Linked DNA regions of Homo sapiens. The protein of the gene in region 3 interacts with the protein of the main gene of each other region in a pairwise test. Each region holds a gene or a part of one and is shown on either strand. Other genes may lie near its edges.

Region 1 (3,001 bases), on a different chromosome or scaffold from region 3:
GAAGGCAAACACACAAACCAAGGTGCCTGCTTTAAATCCGCAAAGTAAAGGTCCTCTTAACCACTTGTCATAAAACACCCTGAGACACCCGTCTTGGAAAATCGAAGTGTCAAGCTCAGCATCTTTGCCACATTTCAAACTAGGTAATTACCTTCTCTCCCAAAGGGAATCTGCTTTATGTATTTGTGTCCTTTCTAGGTTACAAGTTTCCCAAAGGCAATGATCTTGCCTTCCACTCACTCCATACAATGCTGAAGTGAAATGCATATTGTACAATAACAATTTAATTATTCTACATTCCTCTGAGCTACATGATGACCTGTTACATAATTGCCAGTAATATAGAAATGTGCCTGCCTCATACAAACCCTTGCAATACACAGAAGTTTTTATTTGACCTAAGAGTAAATTGCTTATTTGCTTCTCCTTTAGAAAAGAAAAAGCAGAGCATTTCCCCGCCATCCCAAATTATAAGTCGTAATCAAATAAACAACACTGTATTTCAGTCTGTCATTTTTATTAAGCCTGCAGAGCTGTTTTTTTTTCTACACACGACAAATACTTTGATATAATCTAGGATAATAAAATAGTTGAACAACTTTTTAAGATTTATATTTGTATAGAAACAATCTGTGGAACTCCTCCCCTCAAAATGAAGGTGTCTAAAAACAGTGATTCATCAGCATTGCTTTAAATAATTGTTTGGTTAAAAGTTGTGGTTTCCATTCTCAACCGAAATGCGTCTCCATGCAGTTTTCCTTGGGTCCAAAGCTTAAGGCCTTGGGAAGGGGGCCAAGAAAAAAAGAATGGCCACTCTCCTTTCTGTCCTTCCCTTGTGTGGAGGACAGTGATTGAAACAGGGGAGTTAAAAAGCCAGGAAGAAAAGAAATCAATTGCACATCTCTAGTTCGCAAGCGTCAAAGTCACAACAAGTCTGTACACAACAACTCTCTATCTGTAGATATGAAATTCCATCATGATAGCACAGCGCCTGCTTGCCCCTAAATGTTCCTTTCTTCTGCTAATCATGTCAGTTACTATGGATGGGCTGTGGCCATAAGTTCTCCCTCAAGGGCTGGTCCTTCTGTCACCTTGAAGTGTCAGCCCCTGAATTATGCCACTTGGATGCTATGTCTTGATACCCAATAAAGGTCTACCATCCCCTAAGAAATCCCTTACCCCACCCTCAAACCCCCAAAGTGCCTAAGAGTGAAGACGAAGATGCCATGGAGACGGCGTCTTCAGTGAACACCTCCCCAAAGATGCCCGGGGACTCGGGCCTATATCATCCCATTGATCTTAGTCCACTCGTAGATGTCCTGTTCGCACACTATGTCAGAGTTGATGAGGAGGTATCTGTCACCTACACAGAAATGCTTCTGACAGGCGGCGCATTTGAAACATTCCAGGTGATACACTTTGTCTTTCACCCGCATTGTCATCTCATAGGCACGAATCCGCTTGTCACAGGATGCGCAGAGACCGTCTTGCCCAAAAAGCCTGGGGCAAAAGAAAGAAAAGCTAAGAAGACAGTGAAAGGGACAATCCTGGAAGACAGGGCTCGGGGATGAGCCCTAGAAAGGAGGCCGAACTTTCAGGATGTCAGGAAGCCAGGGAAGGTCGGCTCCAGAAGGAGGGCCGGCTAGTGCAGTCTTCACCAGCAGGCAGAGGGAACTCAGATGAAACTGGCATTTGGATCTGGCATAACTCCTCCCTTTTCTGAGCCCTCTCCTTGTCTGCAGCAACCGCTCATCATTCCCCTAGGCTGCCCCCTGGCTCCTCCTCTGTGGGCAAGGCTCTCAGCTGATGTGATCTATCATAAGGAGTTAGGCAAGTATTACCTGTCCCCTCCCAGGGGAACCCTCATTTCAGAAGAGCAGCTGGAGAGAGACCCTAGGGGCCCCTTTGAGAGGGTACTGACCAGGAATGCAATAAAACGGGCATTCTTCTGAGGCTCCCAAACTCTATCATGTCAACAGCCACTGATTCTACCCATGGGGAGAGCTGGCCTTGAATACCTCCATAAGCTGCAAAGCACATCTCCCCCTGATTATTCGCTGGGGCCCCAGCTGCTGGGAGACAGGGAGTTCCACAGAAAACACGCGGTGCAGCTAATCGTGCCTCTGAGATATGGAGGACCAACAGCATCTCTCCACCATGAAGGGAGGATCTTAATTCATGGCCCTCGCTGCCCACTGGCATGAATCAAAAGGGAAACTTCTTTTCTGACATTTAAATCAAGACTCTCCCAAGCCTCAGTTGATCAGTCACTTATTTCAGGCAGTATTCAGTGTCAAGGTGGGAGACAGAACATGGCAGGGCTCAGTGCAGTGGTTCTCAAAGTGTTGGTCCTGGGACCAGCGACATCAGCACTGCCTGGGAACCTGACAGAAATACAAATTCTCAGGCTGGGCGCAGTGGCTCACACCTGTAATCCCAACACTTTGGGAGGCTGAGGCAGGCAAATCACTTGAGCTCACAAGTTCGAGACCACCCTGGGCAACATGGTGAAACTGTGTCTTTACAAAAAATACAAAAATTAGCCGGGTGCGGTGGTGCATGCCTCTAGTCTCAGCTATTAATACTTGGGAGGCTGAGGTGGGAGGATGGCTTTAGCCCGGGAGGTGGAGGTTGCAGTGAGCCGAGATCATGCCACTGCACTCCAGCCTGGGCCACAGAGCCATACCTTGACTCAAAAGAAAAGCAAAAACTAAACAAACAAACAAAAAAACAAATTCTCAGCCCTCCTCCTTCCCTACCCAACTGAGACACCCTGGGGAGAAGGCCCAGCAGTCTGTGCGTTAATGAACACTTCCGGGGGACTGGTTGCAGGCTGACATTTGAGAATCAACAGCAAAAGTGCAGTAACACAAGTACCGGAAGCAGAGAAGACCCAGCTTCAATGTCCCGGACCAGCCCTGAGTGACCCTGGAGAGACCTCTGATTCTCTGAGCCTCAGTGAAATGGCAGCCATCATAGGCTCCACCTCACTCAGCTGTTA
Region 2 (7,398 bases), on a different chromosome or scaffold from region 3:
ATATAACCTGACCCTTGTCCGTACCCTTGCTAGAAAGTACATCTGTGCTTTCTAGAGTTGTTAGGACACAATCAGGTGGCGACCCTGAGCTGGATACAACAGGGCCCAGAGGCAAAGTGGTGATAAATAGAAGTAGTCAGTGGAATTCTTCTAGTGTGGCCTCTCTTTGCAACCTTGGACCCATTTTGTTTGCCTGTCACCCATCCCTTCCACCACTATGACATGAAACTAATAAGCTGACCTTGTCTGGGAGAGCAGGTATATCTTCCTTAGGGACTTTCAGACAACCCTCCACTGACACTGCCAGCTCATCTTCCCCTCCTGTTGGCAGGTCAGCCTGTCCCCGGAAGACCTGCAGGCCCTGGGGAGTGCCATCAGTATGGTCACCCAGCACGGCAGCACCACCCTCACCATCCCCAGTCCTGATGCCGACCTGGCCACATCTGGCACACATACAGTCACCATGGTCAGCGCCGATGGCACCCAGACGCAGCCCGTATGACCAGGCGGTTTGCTTGGGGTTTCTTATTTTGTCATTCCTTTCCATGGGGCGGGCATTAAAGTGCAGCCTAAACTAGTCAAGTCTTCTTACCAGGACAAAGATTCCCCACAAAAGAAGGGGTCTTCCCCACAGTTCCTGGGCCATGAGCAGCTCTTACCTTTAAAAGCAGTTGAATGGAGGTCAAGAGACACTTTCTAAATCTCAATTCAACCCTGATTTGTTGTGCAACCTTAGGCAAATCACTTTTCCATGGACTTCTGTCCATTTTCAAGTGAGGGGATTAAAATATCTCTGGAATTTTTTACAGCTCTGTCCTTCTGTGATTCAAAATCCCTAAATTAAATTGGGCTCTAAGTTGGGAGGAAACCCAGCCTTACTTAGCTCTGAGCCTCAGGCTAATTAATCTGACCCATACGGTTTTATCCATTCTCTTCTGGGTTGTTCCCAGCACCTTAATTGGAGGGATGTTTATTTGGATTGTGGGGAGGGAGAGTATACTGCAGGTGGAATGGAAGACCTCCTTTTGTCTTTCAGGTCACAATCATTACCTCTGGGGCTGTGGTGGCTGAGGACTCAAGTGTAGCATCTCTTCGTCATCAACAGGTGGCACTGTTGGCCACAGCCAACGGAACGCACATTGCAGTGCAGGTGAGTAGAGATCTGGGAGGAAAGGGGATCCCACGGCCAGAGAAGTCAACAAGGAATAAAGGGGAATTAGATGAGGATCTTGAAGAGAAGGGCATCTGACTCAAAAAGAGCCCATTTCAGAGGACAGATCCCTTTCCTCCTGCATCCATGCATCTGTCTCAGGCTCGCTCTTGGCTGAGGCAGAATGTTGAAGCCTCTTCTGGCCTTCAGGATAACTCCGATGGCAGTCCACCTGTGGTCCAAGCCCTTCATCATTTTGTGTCTCTGTTTCTTCATCTGGAAATGAAGGAGGCTGACGTAGATGATCACCACGGTTCTCTTCAGCCAGTCCTTCCTCCGTGAGCAAGTGGGTCTCTCTGACCCTGGCTATTCCAGGGCCCCCTGGCCATGCCTAGCCTAATAGGACTCTTCATCCGTGAACTTCATGTTTATTGGAGCCCTACTAAGTGCTCAGCGTGTGGCACTGGGTAGATGGGGGAGAGTCAAAAAAAAAAGTAGGCCACATATTACTAACACTGGAATCTAGCAGGGAGGGTCTCACTGTCTCCTTCCTTCTGCACCCCCTTCCCCACAGCTGGAGGAACAGCAGACCTTAGAGGAGGCCATCAATGTGGCCACTGCGGCCATGCAGCAAGGGGCTGTGACCCTGGAGACAACAGTGTCGGAGAGTGGCTGCTGAGTCCAAGAGGGCTGGGTCCCACACCATGCTGGAGGAAGTGCCATCTGCATGGCCACTCTTGCCCCCAAGGGCCCAGGCTGTGGCTGACACATAGAAGGTGGCCACATAGGTCTCTGGGGTGAGAAGACAGCAAGAAAACTGCCTAACTGAAGGGAATGGGGGCCCTGCTCAAGAAGGGGGCCAGGCAGCTGGAATCAGGGGAGTGCATCATCCTCGGGAGCTGACAACAGCCAGGCTACACCAGGGCACCCGCCTCTCAAAATCAGCTGGGCGCCCACTCTCCTCCTAAAGAACACCCTTCTGGCCCTCAGTCTGTTCCCCTTCTCAGGTAGAGATTGGGGCTGCTATGGGGACTGGCCCTGTAGGGTTGAGCCACAGACAGCTCTTCAGCCCAGTAGCAGTGGAGCAGGCCCTGTCCTGCCCTCCCAGCAATAACCACCTCCCTGGAGGCCAGCTGAGATGCCTGGCTACTTGGCACCAGGGACTTCCTGACACCACAGTCAATTAATTCCTCAGGGGCCTGTGGCTGAAGAAAAGGTGCCCAGCCCCCACCACTCCTCAGCTGCCCCCCAACCTCTCTATGGCAGAGAGGCAGGGAGTGGCCCTGTACATAGACTGCTGGGGATTGGGTTTGATTTGTTTTGTTTTTTTTAATTCCATTTTGATAATTTTTTTCCTGCTCTGGGTGGTGGTGGCACATGGATGAATGAGTATTTAATAAAAGTTCCAAATTTCCACCTGGGTCCCTCCATCCTTTCAGCTCTAGGCCCGGGTGGCAGGGTTGGTCAAATCAGGCTATCAGCCCTGTCTCCCTGGCACAAACCCCACTCAGCCTTGGTGCCAGAGTGGTGGGGCTGGCCTGCCAGGGACACAGGTGGGAAGGAAGCCCAGTATAAGATAAAGCCCTGAGGAGCTGCTGGTGGCTTCTTGCCCACAGCTGAGCAGGTGGGCTCCAGGGTAGCCAAACAGGACCAGGGTGACCGCTGCTTCCAGGCTCTGGCTGAATCTCAGGCCTCATGTGATTGAGCTGGGGGAACTCTTTTCCTGCCTTTTCTTGTGAAACGTAGTCAGAGCCCCTCCAACCCAGCCACCCCCAAATCACACAGTCAGCTTCTCCAAGAGGGCAAAGCCCCAGGTTAGAGTGAGGCTGGGGGACACCTTTGCCAAGGTTACTGAGATTCAAGGAGCAGAGTCTGATGCCTCTGGAGCTGAAGTCTTGGCTCTATTACCCAGCTCTGGGGGTGCCCACCTAGGTGCCTAGGACTGTGCTGTGGGATTTCAAAGCCACAATCAGACCCCACTGAAAAGTGAGTTGGTGAGACCAGATCAGCTCCAGGGGGAAGAAGGGATACAGGGGAAGGCACTTGATGGGAAGAAGCTCTGGGTTTGACTCTGCCTACACAGGAACATTGCAGGGATTGGTGGTGCCTCTTTTCCTCTCTCTGCTGTGATGGATATGCCCCAACCCCTTCCTGCCTCCTAGGATTGGAACCCCCTCCTCTGATCCAGGCATCCTCTCCCAGGATGCCTAGAAAGCTCCCATTTACTCTTGCCACCAGCTCCTTGGGAAGAGAGGGGCGGGGGCGTGCTTCCAGGCAGGAGGTATTCCCAGCACCTTACTTGGAGGGATTTTTATTTGGCTTAGGGGGTAGGGGGAGGTGTCTTAGAATTGGCCTGAGCAGATGTCTTCAACATCTGTGACCACCATTCCTGGTGTGGGCGTGTCCCAGTCCTTTTGGACACTGGATCTGAAGAAAGGAAGCACTGACATGGAGGGCCCTGAATCCCAAGCCTGCTGCTGCTGGGACCCTTAAAGTTGAGGTGCACCACAAGGCTCACCCCCATGTGTTTCAGGAAGTTTCCAGTGTCTTCAGGGCTACTGGGGCTAGAGTGGGCAGTGCTCTGAGTACCGTTTAGAGCCAGTGCTGAGGGGATAGGGAGCCAGCAAGTCAAGTGCCACATCCTGACCTGGAGAGGTGCCCTGGCCCATTTCCTTCTCCAGCTTTGTGATGTTGCCTTTGTTTCCTTCCACTTGGATGGAGTCCCACCACCATGGTAATGTTAAGTAGCACCAAAAGCTCTACCCAGAGCCTACTATGTGCTTTACGTCCATTCTCAGACATTCTTACAACACGGAGGCATTTTTCCTGCTTTACAAATGAGGAAACTGCTCAAGGAGGTTAAGTAACTTACCCAAGGCCTCCTATGTTGAACTAGGACTGGACCTTTACTCTGTCTGACCCCAATATCAGGATGAGCTTGCTTTTTCCCTCAGCAAGCTGCGTCTGGGAGCCCTGGAAGGCTCCAGAAGCCTCCGGGTCTGAGGAGGCTTCTAAAAGGGCCTCACATGCCCCGGGAGCCACGTGGATACAGAACGAGGGTTCCCGCTCTCGGAGAGTTGGTCCCCAGTTCCCATGCAGGGAGTGGAGCCTCTGAGCACTGCCAGAACAACAGGCAGGGTTCTCGACAGCACAGAGCCTCACGCAATGTGCAGGCAGGTGGTGCTCTCGCTCCACCACGGCACCTCTGCGGTCTCTGCAGCCGTTTGCATTTCCTGAAACCGGATCTTAGTGTCAGAGCCGCCCCCAGCCGGGCGGGCGCCTCAGCCATGGCCCTGCGCAAGGAACTGCTCAAGTCCATCTGGTACGCCTTTACCGCGCTGGACGTGGAGAAGAGTGGCAAAGTCTCCAAGTCCCAGCTCAAGGTGAGGGGCACCCGGGACCCGGGGGAGGACGGCAGATGCACCACACCAGCCCCTGCCGCCTGGGAGCCAGGTGTGGACACTGTGCCACTCCAGGGGCACCCAGCCATCCAGCGTCCCGGGCCTGGGGTCGGGGGGCTGGTCCTGGGTAACTGGGCCAACGTAGCCTGGTAGATGCCGCTGCCCACCCTCCAGAGACCTAGTGAAGTGTGTGCAGAAACCTTGCGCAGAACTGGGCCCCACAACTGGAGGCCAGGAGGTTCTGAGGGCCATTATGGGGTTCTGAGGGCCAGGAGCCAGGCCACATCCCAGACTCTGTGTGATGAGCACACACACCTCCACAGAGTCATGCTTGGGCACGCAGTGTGCTCTTTCTTGCTGCTTCCTCCTGACTTTCAAGAGAAACAGTTAGCCAGTGCTTGGCAGTCATTTCCTCTGGAGCTGAGAGAGGCATAAAGGGGCCGCCCCCAGTCCCAAACCTGTCTGGCCTGTCTAACCCTGCCCGCCAGGTGGGACAGAGCTGCGGAGTGGGTGAGGACTGAGGACCCTATTATACTGCTACGCAGCTCACCCCCCTATCCACCACACATATCAGGTTGGGAAACTTACCTTAGGCCTTGAGACCTCAGGTAGGGAAGGGGGAGAATCTAAGCCCAGGAAAATCCCAATCAATGATTGTCCTGAAGTCAATCATCTGGCCTAGACAATTTCTGGGAGGCCAAGGAGTTTTTCTCTCTCTTCCTCTAGTCCTCCAGTAGTGCTGCCTTCCCTACCCTAGTTAGTGGGGAGGAAGCAAGGCCCTCAGCCACTAGAATCAGCGAACACTGGGGGAAAGGAGCAAGGTAGGCCTCAGCTCTCTAGGACCTGCCATAGGGGTGCCTTCGTTCACTCTGCAAGTACTTGAGTGCCCCTCGTGAGGCTCTGTGCCTGGCATGTGGCTAGGCACTAAACTGGTGTCTCCCTGCCCCATCCTCCAAAGGAGACGTGTGGTCTCAAGGAAACCTCCATTCTTAATGACCGAGGTAGAGGGTGCTGGATACCTGAGAGATGAATGGGACAGAACAGTTATTGTGCCCCACCACCGTTCCAACCCCCTACTTTACTGAACTTGGATGTGAGGAACTTGAATATCCCAAACTGGTCCTATGTTAAATTCCTTACCTGGATTTGTGAGCATCTAATAGATGATTTCACTCCCCCAGGAAGGAGAGCCCACTACTATCTTTTGTCACCTAGGGAGAACCTCCTAACAGGCAGATTCTTCCTTACATCCTATTTAAATCTCTTGTATTGCAGATCATGTCATTTGGTTGGGTCCTCAGTATAAATGGAAAAAAGTCGATCATCCAAAATCCATTTCTGCAAACTCTGTGTCCCACCCCTACCTCCCACCCTGTCCCTTTAATATCTTGCCAGACAATACCAGCCCCCGTGGCTTTTTGCTTCCAGGGTAACATTTTCCACTTCTGTATTACCTGTGGCCACTGAGACCTCTCCAGGCTCTCTCTGCCCTTCACATGGAAAGTACAGCCTTTAAGTGGCTCCCCTTTTCCTGGTGCCATCAGCCAGTAAAGCCTCCTAGCTTGAGCCTCTGTCTTGCCCTCTAAAAGGGCCACTACCCACTCCCTCATCCCCACAGGTTGCGTATTTCTAGGGAAATACTCCATGGAGAGCTTGCATGCTTGAACTGTCCACTGTCTGTACCTCATCACAGCTCATATTGAACCTACTGCCAGCAACATCTCTGGTCACACAGGATCAATTATAGAGTTCCCTCCTACTTGACAGAAAACTTGTCAACTCTGGAAACCTGGGCTAACAGTGGGAGTCTCAGGGGCCAAGTGGGGGTGGGGCGGAAATGGCGGGGCTCCTTTCAAGCCCATAATAGTGAATATTGGAAGAGGAGGAAGTAGTGATAGTGTTGGGGGGCGGGGATTCCAGCAAAGCAAAGGAGTAATAGAGAAGTGGTCAAAAGGCAAAGGAGGAAGCAGACGAGAGAGTTATACAAGCAGGGCCCACCTCTCCCCAGAAAAGACTTGGGGATGAGGGAAAAGACCTTGGAGTCAATCTGGTTTTTTGTTGTTGTTTTAGAGATGAGATCTTGTTCTATCACTCATGCTGGAGTGCAGTGGTGCAGTCATAGCTCACGACAGCCTCAAACTCCTGGGTTCAAGCGATCTTCCTACTTCAGCCTCCTGAGTAGCTGGGACTACAGGCACATGCCACCACGCCTGGCTAATTTTTTTATTTTTTATTTTTTAGAGCCTGAGTCTCATTATGTTGCCCCGGCTGGTTTCAGACTTCTGGCCTCAAGTGATCCTCTGGCTTCTGCCTCCTGAGTAGCTGGAATTATAGTCTTGAGCCACCTCACTGGGCTGGTTACTAAAACCATCCCTAGCGTTAGGGTCCTGGGTTGGAACCTGGCAAGAGACCTGCACTAGCCCAGGGCAAGATGTGTCGGTGCGTGACATTTGCCACTTCTCCCCTAATGTGTTGGTAGACGGGCTCCCAGTGGCTGTCCTGGGCAAACCCACGATGAGGCCAGAGGGTAGGAGGAAGAACAGCACGTCCTCTGAGAAAAGCCCAAGGAGTAGGGTTGTTTCTCCTGGAAAAGAGAAGGCTTGAGGGAAAAACCAGATACTTCTTTCTCTCTTTGAATTCTTGTAGAAAGTACAATGGCTTCATCCAGTTGGGTTGAGAACAGAGAAAGTAAACCAATAGGAATGGCACTCCTGCCCAGGATGGATTTAGGTTGAACACAAAACTTCCCAGGAGTTGAGGGCTGTGAGTTCTTGCAAGGTTCCCAGAACCGCCTCTAAAAACCTTTGGAAGGTAGCCATCCTGACAGAGGGCTATAGAGAGGGGAGC
Region 3 (6,694 bases):
CGCGCCTGTAATCCCAGCTACTTGGGAGGCTGAGGCAGGAGAATCGCTTGAACCCTGGTGGCAGAAGTTGTGGTGAGCCAAGATTGTGCCATTGCACTCCAGCCTGGGCAACAAGAGTGAAACTCCTTCTCCAAAAAAAAAAAGAAAAAAAAAGAGAAGGGAACTCCTACACACTGTTGGTGGGAACGTAAGTTAGTACAGCCACTACTGAAAACAATATGGAGATGTCTGAAAAAAACAAAAACAGAACTACCATGTGGGCTGGGCATGGTGACTCACACCTGTAATCCCAGCACTTTGGGAGGCCAAGGCTGGTCGATCACCAGAGGTCAGAAGTTCACAATAGCCTAGCCAACATGGCAAAACCCCTTCTCTACTAAAAATACAAAATTTAGCTGGGTGTGATGGAGGGTGCCTGTAATCCCAGCTACTTGTGAGGCTGAGGCAGGAAAATCACTTGAACCTGGGAGGCAGAGGCTGCAATGAGCCGAGACCAGGGCATTGCACTCCAACCTAGACAACAAAAGCAAAACTCCGTCTCAAAAAAAAAAAAAAAGAACTACCATGTGATCCAGCAATCCCACTACCTGGAATTTATCCAAAGGAAAAGAAATCAGTATATAAAAAAGATAACCTGCATCTCCGTGTTTACTGTAGAGCCGTGTTTACAATAGCAAAGATATGGAATCAACCTAAGTGTTGATCAGGGGACAAATGAATAAAGAAAATATGATATATATACACAGTGGACTTAAGCCATAAAAAATGAAATCATGTTTACAGCATGGATGGAACTGGAGGTCATTATGTTAAGTGAATAAGCCAGACACAGAAAGGCAAATATCACATGTCCTCACTTACATGTGGGAGCTAGAAAAGTTGATCTCATGGAGGTAGAGAGTAGAATGATACCAGAGATTGGAAGGGTGTACGTGGGTGGGAGAGGTGGATGAAGAGAAGTTGGGTAATGGGTACAAACATACACTTAGGAAGAAGGGATAACTTGTAATGTTCAATAGCAGAGTAGGGTGACTGTAGTTAACAAAGTACTGTAAATTTCCATAGCTAGAAGAGAGGACTTGAAATTTTCCCAACACATAGAAATGTTAAATACTCAAAGTGATTGATACCTTAAATATCCTGACTTGATTATTGTACATTCTATGTATGAAGAAAAGCAAAATATCACATGAACTCCATAAATATGTAAAAATTTTGTGTATCAATATATTTTTTGTTTTGTTTGTTTTTTTTTTTTTTAGATGGAGTCTTGCTCTGTCACACAGGCTGGAGTGCAATGGTGTGATCTTGGCTCACTGCAACCTCTGCCTCCTGAGTTCAAGCCATTCTTGTGCCTCAGCCTCCTGAGTAGCTGGGACTACAGGCGTCCGACTCCACACCCAGCTAATTTTTGTATTTTTAGTACAGACGGGGTTTTGCCATGTTGGCCAGGCTGGTCTCGAACTCCTGACCTCAGGTGATCCTCCCGCCTTGGCCTCCCAAAGTGTTGGGATTACAGGCACAAGCCACTGTGCCCAGCCCAATTTTTTTTTCTTTTTGAGACGGGGTCTCACTCTGTCACGCAGGTTGAAGTGCAGTGGCATGATCTTGCTCACTGCAACCTCTGCTTCCTGGGTTCAAGGAATTCTTGTGCCTCAGCCTCCTGAGTAGCTGGGACTACAGGTGTGCACCACCAGACCTGGCCAATTTTTGTATTTTTAGTAGAGATGGAGTTTCAGCATGTTGCCCATGCTGGTTTCTAACTTCTGGCCTAAAGCAATCTGCCCACCTCAGCCTCCCAAAGTGCTGAGATTACAGGTGTGAGCAACTGGGCTGGGCCTAAATTAAATATTTTCAAAATTTAAAAAATACTCATTTCTAAGGATATATTTTTCCTTATATAATTTCTACAGTATTCACCACATGGAGTGCAGTGAGGCAGTTCCAGAACTCAAGGTAATAATGTAAGCATATTAATAATATTTAATTATTAACAATTAATAATTAATCAATTAATAACATATGCATATGAGATCAGCAGGAGTCACACTAAAAGCCAAAAAGCATTTCAGGTGAAAAACAGCAAGGGTAGGCCAGAAAACACAAAGAAATCTTGACTGAAAAGTCAGCAATAAAAAACACTATTGAATAAAAAGGAAGGCTCGATATACTAGGGCTGGCAGGGGAGCCAAGCAAGTAGATCCAGAGCCAGAATGACAGCAGGGACCTGGTAGGCCTTGCTTGTTATCTCCAGCAACCAGCCCCACGCTTAGCAAACAGTATTCTGCATCCTGTATGATTGCAGGTATATTCCAAATGTGGGGATGAAGGCAACTAGTATTTACAGTCCAATGCCACCAGCCATGAGGATGACCCATCTTGGCTGAAAAATAAAGACCTTAAATCTAGGAAGCGGAAGATACAACCCAGGACAGCAGGAAGGGGAGACCCGGTATGAGAAGAACTGAGGCCCAACCCAGTTTAGAGAGGAGACTGAAGGCTAAAGGAGGAAGGTTTCCCAGGAAAAAAAAAATTAGGATTTGAAAGTTGATGCTATCTTTGATAATTTGGAACAACGTAAATAAGTAGAAATGGCAGGGCCGGGCGCCGTGGCTCACGCCTGTAATCCCAGCACTTTGGGAGGCTGAGGCGGGAGGATCACCTGAGGTCGGGAGTTCGAGACCAGCCTGACTTAATATGGAGAAACCCCGTCTCTACTAAAAATACAAAATTAGACGGGCATGGTGGCTCATGCCTGTAATCCCAGCTACTTGGGAGGCTGAGGCAGGAGAATCGCTTGAACCTGGGAGGCGAAGGTTGCGGTGAGCCTAGATAGCGCCATTGCACTCCAGCCTGGGCAAGCCGAGATAGCGCCATTGCACTCCAGCCTGGGCAACAAGAGTAAAACTCCTTCTCAAAGAAAAAGTAGAAATGGCTGGGAACCGTGGCGCATGCCTGTAATCACAGCACTTTGGGAGGCCGAGGCAGGAGAATTGCTTGAGGCCAGGAGTTCCAGACCAGCCTGGGCAACATAGCAAGACCCTGTCTCTGTTTTAAAATTTAAAAATTAGCCAAGCATTGGGTGTGCGCCTGTGGTCCCAGCTACTCGGGAGGCTGAGGTGAGAAGATCGCTTCAGCCCGGGAGGTCGAGTCTGCAGTGAGCTAGGATCGCACTGCTGGGCCACAGAGCAAGACCCTGTCTCAAAACAAACAAAAAATAAATTCATGTATGTTAGCAACAATTACTATTTAATTTAAAACTTCCCCATTCCGATTCCATCCTCACCAAGCACGTTCCTTCGCCTGCAGCTTCGGTCTAGAGCCTGAGCGAGCCGAGCTGCGGATGCCAGGGGCTGGGTGGACTCCGCAGCTAAGCTACTGTAAAACACGCACCTGCTTCTACCGCGGGTGTACACATGGTTTGCCAGGGTGTGCGCGTCTTCCCAAGGGGTCTGGGGACCAAATTCCAGCTCCCGCCATCGGGAGGCACGGTAAGAGACCGTAGGGGACACAATCCCGAGCACCGCAGATGCCGAGGTCTCCGCTGCGCTCCAGTCTGTCAACAGAGGCTTCAGGACCGCGGGGTCCCTTCAAATGCCCCGCCAGTCCCAGGCCAATCACCGCGCAGCTTCTTCCGGGATCGTCGCCAATCATCGGCCGTTGCGTATTGCGGGTACAGAGGGGTAAGTGAAGCTTCGGGCCCTTACATCTTTCTTGAAGGCAAGAAGCCTCTCCTCTACTTCCCAGACACCCCGCCTCCCCCACTAGAAAAAGCAGCCGAAGCGGCTTTATTTAAGGGCAAGTGGGACGATGAGGCCAGAGAAGTCAGAAAGGCTCCATATTTGATATGGTCAAATAATGGCGCCCTTAAGAGCAGCCTGTGACAATTGAAGGGTGGTCGCCATATTTTCAGAAGGCACCTTCCGGGTCCCTTAACCCGGGTGTCTATGTCCAAGCGGCCATGAAGTGAATAAACACTGAGGAATTATATTTGTCCCTATCAGAATCCTCGAATCCCTAGCAGCCAGTCCCTGCTACTTCGGTTGCCTCGGCTGCGTTCGGACGCCACGGCTGGGCGGGGCCGCCCTTCCTGTGGACAACGACAGCTGAGGCCGGGAGCGGGGAGGCGGCGGCTCCAGGGACCTGGCGGCCGCCGATCGGGGCTGCGAGGCCCCATGGCGCCGCCCCCAGCCCCGCTCCTGGCGCCGAGGCCCGGGGAGACCCGGCCTGGTTGCAGGAAGCCCGGGACTGTGAGCTTCGCGGACGTGGCCGTGTACTTCTCCCCGGAGGAGTGGGGCTGTCTGCGGCCCGCGCAGAGGGCTCTGTACCGGGACGTGATGCAGGAGACCTACGGCCACCTGGGCGCGCTCGGTGAGAGCCCCGGGTCCGAGCCCCCTCCTCCTTCACCGGGTTCACAGGGGAGATGATGTAGAAGGGCCGAGAGGACTGTGAGCCCTAATCCCGCACTCTTGCACCAACACCAGCAGCCACCTCCCGTTCCCAGGGCTTCAGGTACCCCCTCGGGAGTGTTTTCACCCGCATCCATTTCATTCAGGCAGCAGCACTGCAGCCCCTTCCAGGTTGAGTATAAGCTCCGAGGGGGTGCCCTCAGCCTGGAGGGGAATGCCATCTTCCCACGATGGCCTCTCAGGCCCGCGCTGTGATCCCTGTTCTCTCCCAGGATTCCCAGGCCCCAAACCAGCCCTCATCTCTTGGATGGAACAGGAGAGTGAGGCTTGGAGCCCCGCCGCCCAGGATCCTGAGAAGGGGGAAAGACTGGGAGGAGCTCGGAGAGGTGAGGGATAGTCCCGGGTCCCCCCACTTGGTTTTCCAGGGCTTCCTGTCTAGCAGAGTTTCTTTTCAGGCCCCCACTTCCAGCATCCCTAAAGAAATTCAACTGTGTTGGGTACTAGAGGAGTAAAGAAGGCAGACCTGGTACAAAGTTTTCAGAACATGGGACAGCGGTCCTGTGAGGACTGGGAGCCCAGTCCAACCAGGCACTCCAGCCTGGGTGACAGAGTGAGACTCCGTCTCAAAAATAAATAAATAAATAAATAAATAAATAAATAAATAAATAAATAATAGCCCCTGCTTCCTGAGCACTTCCTAAGTGCTTAACATGCATCTACTCAGCTAAACCAGTAACGCTGTGAAGTCAAAAGCCATTATTATTCCCATTTGATGCATAAGGAACCAAGGCTCAGATAAGGCACTTTTAGGAGATCTGAATCCTGTTTACCTTGTTCTAAAGCCTGTGTGTTAATCACTGGACAGAACTTCCCTCACTGCCTTAAGTGAAAAGCATTCTATAACCTGAGACAGTCTGTGCAAAAGTGTTTGTAAGTGTAACTTAATTCCGGTTTCCCAGGAGATGTCCCAAACAGGAAGGAAGAGGAACCGGAGGAAGTCCCAAGAGCCAAAGGGCCTAGAAAGGCTCCTGTGAAGGAGAGTCCTGAAGTGCTGGTGGAACGCAACCCTGACCCAGCTATTAGCGTGGCCCCGGCACGGGCACAGCCACCCAAAAATGCTGCCTGGGACCCGACCACAGGAGCACAGCCCCCGGCACCCATACCCAGCATGGATGCTCAGGCCGGCCAGCGGCGCCACGTGTGCACGGACTGCGGCCGCCGCTTCACCTACCCCTCACTGCTGGTCAGCCACAGGCGCATGCACTCGGGGGAGCGGCCTTTCCCCTGCCCCGAGTGTGGCATGCGCTTCAAGAGGAAGTTCGCAGTGGAAGCGCACCAGTGGATCCACCGCTCCTGCTCCGGGGGGCGGCGGGGCCGGAGGCCTGGGATCCGGGCTGTGCCTCGGGCCCCCGTCCGAGGTGACCGGGACCCGCCTGTGCTCTTCCGGCACTACCCAGACATCTTCGAGGAGTGCGGCTGAGCGGCACCGCAGGCTGGAGTTGAGCCTGACCTTGGCACGAAGGACTGACGGATCCCTGAGGTGGGCCACTGAGTCGGGGACTCCGGAACTGAAATTCATGCCCTGGGCTTTCCTCAAGGATCCCTCAAGTTTCCAACTTGTAAAAAGAAAAGTGCCTGTAAAGATTCGAATAGATTAGACTTGCCACCCATCTCCCCAGTCTTTTGTTTAACAAAAAAAAAAAAAAAAAAAAAAAAAAAGAAGAGAGTGAGACCCTGGACTCATTTCAAAGTGTTATCTGAAGATCAGGTGCAACAGAGACCTTTATATCATCTCAGGAACTAGCCACTCCTTATCTATTTCAGATGCAGATGCTGAGGGGGACCAGGGCCTGGGGAGGGGACCTACATGGAGGGCGTGGTCAAACCCTGGCTAATTGTCATCAGCAGGGGACCCAGACACTGGAGTGGATGGGAGTAGAATAGATGCAGGTGGCACAAATCCAGCCTCTGTTGGGAGACCAAGGAGGGAGGATCGTTTGAGTCCAGGAGTTCAGACCAGCCTGAGCAACAGGCTATCTAGCGATATCTAGATATCTAGGATATCACTATCTAGAGATAGTGAAATCCTATCTCTACAAAAAAAAAAAAAAAAAATGAACCAGGCATAGTGGCACATCGTGCCTGTGGTCCCAGCCACTTGGGAGGCTGAGGTGGGAGGACTGCTTGAGCCCAGGAGTTCAAGGCTACAGTGAGCTATGATTGTGCCACTGTACTACAGTCTGGGCAACAGAGCAAGACTTCATTTCTTTCTTTTATTTTTTTTG

The links. The genes of interacting proteins can lie anywhere in the genome.
Region 1: the proteins of ZNF688 (region 3) and LMO2 interact in binary tests that used the Homo sapiens proteins (3 or more experiments, as listed by UniProt).
Region 2: the proteins of ZNF688 (region 3) and DEF6 interact in binary tests that used the Homo sapiens proteins (3 or more experiments, as listed by UniProt).

What each region holds. Positions count from the first base shown.
Region 1 is NC_000011.10:33,858,076-33,861,076, forward strand, and holds the end of LMO2 (rhombotin-2), read right to left. Parts: intron 1,501-3,001; coding exon 1,281-1,500; 3' UTR 501-1,280; downstream 1-500. UniProt on the Homo sapiens protein: Acts with TAL1/SCL to regulate red blood cell development. Also acts with LDB1 to maintain erythroid precursors in an immature state.
Region 2 is NC_000006.12:35,293,420-35,300,817, forward strand, and holds the start of DEF6 (differentially expressed in FDCP 6 homolog), read left to right. Parts: upstream 1-4,398; 5' UTR 4,399-4,437; coding exon 4,438-4,533; intron 4,534-7,398. Other genes in the region: ZNF76 (zinc finger protein 76), read left to right, coding at 332-496, 1,037-1,150, 1,361-1,492.
Region 3 is NC_000016.10:30,569,111-30,575,804, reverse strand, and holds ZNF688 (zinc finger protein 688), read left to right. Parts: upstream 1-4,090; 5' UTR 4,091-4,175; coding exon 4,176-4,371; intron 4,372-4,377; exon of another isoform or gene 4,378-4,580; intron 4,581-4,681; coding exon 4,682-4,795; intron 4,796-5,368; coding exon 5,369-5,889; 3' UTR 5,890-6,079; downstream 6,080-6,694. UniProt on the Homo sapiens protein: May be involved in transcriptional regulation.